2 separate regions of the Homo sapiens genome follow, and region 1 is linked to region 2. The links come from fine-mapping of genetic effects on gene expression. A gene starts in region 2. The other region holds a variant in brackets. All regions are shown on one strand. Distances are from middle to middle.

What was found. PIP is the estimated chance that this variant, and not a neighbour inherited with it, causes the effect.
Region 1: its variant is the best candidate, but not a certain one, in a credible set for the expression of RPF2 in esophagus mucosa (GTEx, PIP 0.52).

What each region holds. Positions count from the first base shown.
Region 1 is chr6:111,019,164-111,022,081 of GRCh38, forward strand. All of the region lies in intron 8 of RPF2 (ribosome production factor 2 homolog), which reads left to right. Among named protein-coding and RNA genes, the nearest start is that of RPF2, 39 kb to the left of the region's middle. The variant G/A (reference allele first, on the strand shown) is at 1,732.
Region 2 is chr6:110,980,682-110,983,599 of GRCh38, forward strand. It overlaps RPF2 (ribosome production factor 2 homolog), which reads left to right and starts at 1,357. Exons shown (of 10, transcript NM_032194.3): 1 at 1,357-1,448. The coding sequence starts at 1,426.

The DNA of each region.
Region 1 (2,918 bases), 38 kb after region 2:
CTTGAGGAGTTCAAGACCAGCCTGGCCAACATGGAGAAACCCTGTCTCTATTAAAAAATACAAAAATTAGCTGGGTATGGTGGCGCACGCCTGTAATCCCAGCTACTTGGGAGGCTGTGGCATGAGAATTGCTTGAGCCTGGGCCACACGCCTATAATCCCGGCTACTCAGGCGGCTATGGCACAAGAATTGCTTCAGCTTGGGAGGCAGAGGTTGCAATGAGCTGAGATTGTGCCACTGCACTCCAGCCTAGGTGGCAGAGTGAGACTGTCTGAAAAAAACAAAACAAAATTAAACTTATGTTGGCTGGACACCTGTAATCCTAGCACATGGGAGGCTGAGGCGGGTGGATCACCTGAGGTCAGTAGTTCCAGACCAGCCTGGCCAACATGGCATAACACCGTCGCTACTAAAAATACAAAAATTGGTCAGGCATGGTGGTAGGCGCCTGTAATCCTAGCTACTCGGGAGGCTGAGGCTGGAGAATTGCTTGAACCCGGGAGACAGAGGTTGCAGTGAGCCGAGCACTCCAGCCTGGGCAACAAGAGTGAAACTCCATCTCAGACATAAAGTAATAAAATAAAATAAAAATTGTATAAAATTACCTTCAGGCTATGTATATAAACTGTATATGAAACATAAATGGATTTTGTGTTTAGACTTGGATCTCATCCCCAAGATATCTCATTATACGTATGCAAGTATTTCAAACTCTGAAAAAAACCAGAAATCTGGAACACCTTTCTTTTCTTTCTTTTGTTTTTTTTTTGAGACGGAGTCTCGCTATGTTGCCCAGGCTGGAGTGCAGTGACGCAATCTCAGCTCACTTCAGCCTCTGCCTCCCGGGTTCATGCCATTCTCCTGCCTCAGCCTCCCAAGTAGCTGGAACTACTGGCACCCGCCACCACGCCCGGCTAATTTTATTTTTGTATTTTTAGTAGAGACAGGGTTTCACCATGTTAGTCAGGATGGTCTCAATCTCCTGACCTCGTGATCTACCTGCCTTGGCCTCTCAAAGTGCTGAGATTACAGGCATGAGCCACCGCGCCTGACCTGGAACACTTCTTTTTTTGAGGCAGGATCTTGCTGTTGCCCAGGCTGGAGTACAGTGGCATCATCTCAGCTCACTGCAACCTCTGCCTCCCGCATTCAAGCGATTCTCCTGCCTCGGGTGGGTATGTATGCCCTCTGTGTTAAACATAGAGGGGATACAAGGGAGATAAAAATATAACGGTAAAAAATCATTGACAGTAAGAAATGAGTGGTAACAGTAGCCTAAAACTCTTCTGTGTTGAACGGTTTCGCAGAAAGTATTCACTTGTATTTAGTGAAAAGGGTTTATTTGTAAAGAAAGATACAGAGAAAATAAAACAAAATAGAGAATTATCAAGTCAGACTTTAGAGCAAGAATAAACTGGCCCAGCGTGGTGGCTCATGCCTGTAATCCAGTACTTTGGGAGGCCAAGATGGGTGGATCACCTGAGGTCAGGAGTTTGAGACCAGCCTGGCCAACATGGTGAAACCCCGTCTCTACTAAAAATATAAAAATTAGCCGGGCAACATGGTGTGCACCTGTAATCCCAGCTACTCAGGAGGCTGATGCAGGAGAACCCGGGAGGCAGAGGTTGCAGTGAGCCAAGATCGCACCACTGCACTCCAGCCTGGGTGACAGCGAGACTCCATTTCAAAAAAAGAGAAAAAAAAGAATAAACTAGCAGTAAGGCCGGGCAC[G/A]GTGGCTCATCCCTGTAATCCCAGCAGCCCTTTGGGAGACTGAGGTGGGCAGATCACGAGGTCAGGAGATCGAGACCATCCTGGCTAACACGGTGAAACATCATCTATACTAAAAATACAAAAAATTAGCTGGACATGGTGGCGCATGCCTGTAATCCCAGCTATTCAGGGGGCCAAGGCAGGAGAATTGCTTGAACCACGGAGTCGGAGATTGCAGCGAGCCTAGATTGTGCCACAGCACTCCGGCCTGGTGACAGAGCAAGACTCTGTCTCAAAAAAATAAAAATAAAAACAAAAATAAAAAACTAGCAGTGTAACTATAATACATAGATCCACCAAAAATCTGATTGCTAGAATCACCTTTACACTAGCACGACATCTTTCATAATGAAAAAAAGTTTGAAATTTTAAAATCAGAGACCCTAGTATGTAATTTTGATCACTAGATGTTCCATATGTGCCTTGTAATACTTGTTAGCTATTAATTTGAAATAAAAAATGGACACTGTGATTGAGAGTGAGCTGCTACTTGAAAGAATCACTAAACATGTGGATCAGCTTAGCTTCCAGAGGCTGTGCCACACTTGGGGAGCATTGAGGATGGGAGGAAGGGGTGGTCCAGGGATTCAGCATCACCTCTGAGCCTACTGACCTGGCTCTGAGCTGGGCTCAGCCACGTGACATGGGCAGGTCACCACTTCTCAGGGTCTTTGTTTCTTCCTCTGTAAACTATAGCAATACCATTTAGATAATTCTGAGGTCCCCCTAAGATTGACAGTACTGCTTTATAAGAGTAAAGGGGTACTCATAGATGGGCATATACCAGAAAGTATGTCTGACTTAACTTGGCTCCCCAGGCATTCTTTGGGCTAGCTATACTGTGGAACCCTTTCCCTCGCTCTTACTGCAAATTAGCCCTTATGCAATTTGAAAATGGTAATATTTAATATTCACACACTTTATTTGTGAAGATAAATGAGGTTTATAAAATGGTTTTGAGCTTTTTGGATGAAAGGAACTCTAAACAGGAAATTATATTAATATAACCTTTAACATGATCTTTTGGGTGAATAAATCATAGTGTTATTGACCACTGTTCCTATACATCCTATAGTAATTATTCCTTGTATGTGAGTGACTATTTATATCCGTTGGGAAATTTTATTCACTATGGAGTCAGAGCCATT
Region 2 (2,918 bases):
ACCCTGTCTCTACTAAAAAATACAAAAGTTAGCAAGGTGTGGTGGTGCGTGCATGTAATCCCAGCTACTTGGGAGGCTGAGGCAGAACTGCTTGAACCCGGGAGGTGGACGGCGCAGTAAGCCAAGATCGCACCACTGCACTTCAGCCCTGGCGACAGAGCAAGACTATGTCTAAAATAAAAAAAGTACCTAGGTTGATAAATGGATAAACAAAATGTGGTATATCCATACAAAGGAATATTATTCAGTCCTAACAAAATGGAAGTACTGATCCACGCTACATGTATGAACCTCAAAAAGATAGTGAAAGAAGTCAAACACAAAAGGCCATACGTTGCACGAAACCATTTATATATGTTCAGAATAGGCAAATCCATTGAACATAAAGTAGATTATTGGTTGCCAAGGGCTGGCAGGAGGGGGAAGTGGGGCATGGACTGCTACTGGGTGTGTGTGTCAGGGGGGTTCTTTTTGAGGTGATTAAATATTCTGGAATTAGTGGTGATATTTGCACATCTTTGTGAATACACCAAAAATCACTGAATTGTACACTGTAAAGGGGTACATTTTATGGTATGTGAAGTATATGGTAACTTAAAAACTGGGGAAAAATCACGAACAGCAGTACATTTTCTGCGCATCTTTTATGTACTAGGCAACTGTGGTAGTCATAAATTCTGTCACACAGATCGCATAGTTGTCAATAGTGCCCCTTTCACATCAATGTTTTTAGTGCTTATGTGAGTACCTACCGTGCAATCAATCAACCTTTCTAGCATCCTGGGATTCCTTGAAGAATAAAATCTGGTTTCTGAATACCTGACTCCAGGTATGCACACTAGCGCGTACATCAAACTGCGAGGGTCTATGTTATTTTATTTTATTTTTATTTTATTTTTGAGACGAAGTCTCGCTCTGTCACCCAGGCTGGAGTGCAGTGGCGCGATCTCCGCTCACTGCAACCTCCGCCTCCCGGGTTCAAGCAGTTCTCCCTGCCTCAGCCTCCCGAGTAGCTGGGGTTAGAGGCGCCCGCCACCACGCCCGGCTAATTTTTGTATTTTTAGTAGAGACGGGGTTTCGCCATGTTGGCCAGGCTGGTCTCGAACTCCTGTTATCAGGTAATCCGCCCGCCTGGGCCTCCCAAAATCCTGGGATTACAGGCGTGAGCCACCACGCCCGGCCAGTGTTACTTAAAAGTATTACCTCGCACCTGTAACTCCAGGAAAGAGCCGGGGCAAAAATCCGTAACCAAGACAACAGGGCGCGATTCCAATCAAGATGGCCGCCAGCGCCTCTAGACGCCCTCTACGAGGCCGTCCCCGGAAGTGGCGTTACGCGCAGCTTCCGGTTCCGCCTGTTCCGGCGCACGTAATCGCCGAGGGCACGTGCATGCCCCCTGGTTAAGAGTTGCAGGTAGCGGTAGCGATGGACACTCTGGATCGAGTAGTGTAAGTGCGCTGGGTCTCAGCCCCGGGGAGCGTTGGGGTGAAAGGGTCCCGTGATGAGGGTGGTACTGTCTCGGCCTCTCACTCTTCCTGGTTACCCCTCTAATTACCTGGGTGGGGGCCGATCGATCACCAGCCCGGGTCCTCCTCAGCGCGAGCTGCTTGCCAGGAGACAGTGGGGAAGCTCTCAAGTGGGAGCCGTGGGATGGGAGGGATGTGGGATTGAAGCGTTGGCCGCTTTTATCCTAGCCAGTTGAAAAACGTCTGACTTCCGAAGTATGAGACAGATGGTATAGTGGGGTTAGGAGCACAGCCCTCGGAATCCGACAGATCTGAGTGACAGTCTGGCGCGTCCACTTAAAGCTTTGTGACTTTGGGTCATTAAATATCTCTAAATCTTAGCTTATTCTGTAAAATAGCGCTCACCATAGTCATACTTCATAGAGCTGTGAGGGTTAGTTTCGAGAATGTATGTAGAGCCTTTGCTGCAGCACGTAGAAATGTTCATTAGTTTTTTCTTTTCCTTCCAACTTTGTACACTCCTCTGAGTTATCCTTGAATGATACCTGTTTTAAATTTGTTCAAGAATATTTGGGCTAAACAGCCCTGCTGTTACTTGCTGTGATTTTCTTGCTATTTACCTAAGTTAACATGTATCCAAAACGACAGTTTTAGTCATTCAGAGATTTTGCACACCTGCTATGCCTCTAGCTGTTTGGACTACAAAGAGTAGTTTACTAGGTATTGGGACTAGTTCACACGTTAATTGGGAGCAGGCAGCTAATAAAACATGTTAATTGCTATTTGCATTTGTTGCTGTTTAATGAGATACAAAAGATAGAATAATTTGTATCTTTATCAACCAGTAAATGATCAGAAGCTTTATATGTGACATTATATCTGGAGGAGTATTTTAAAAATCTACATGGGAAACTTAAGTGTATGTATGGTCTCTTTTTCTTCCCAAAGTGTCCATGGGACTGGACGAGGGAGGGTCATAATTATTTGGGAGGAAGAATTCTTTCAGTAGATGGCAGAGAACTGTCTGAAAAGCAAGGTGCTCATTGTAGAGGAAGCAGAGGTGAAGCCCCTCTTTTGAACAGAAGTGTGTAAAAACATGCCACTCCTACTGTCACATCATAAAGTCAGAATAATGAATTTATTTTCCCTTCATATTTTACAGGGTAATTGGTCTAGACGAATTTTTAAATCTAGCTTTAAAAAATTTGTTTTTTTTTGAGACAGGGTATCACTCTGTCACCCAGGCTGGAGTGCAGTAGCCCCATCACAGCTCACTGCAGCCTCGACCTCCCTGGGATCAAGCAGTCCTCCTACCTCAGCCTGCTGAGTAGCTGGGACTATAGGCGCACACCACCACAGCTAATTTTTGTATTTTTTGTAGAGACAGGGTTTTGCATTGTTGCCCAGGCTGGTCTCGAACTTCTGGGCTCAGTGATCCATCCACCTTGGCCT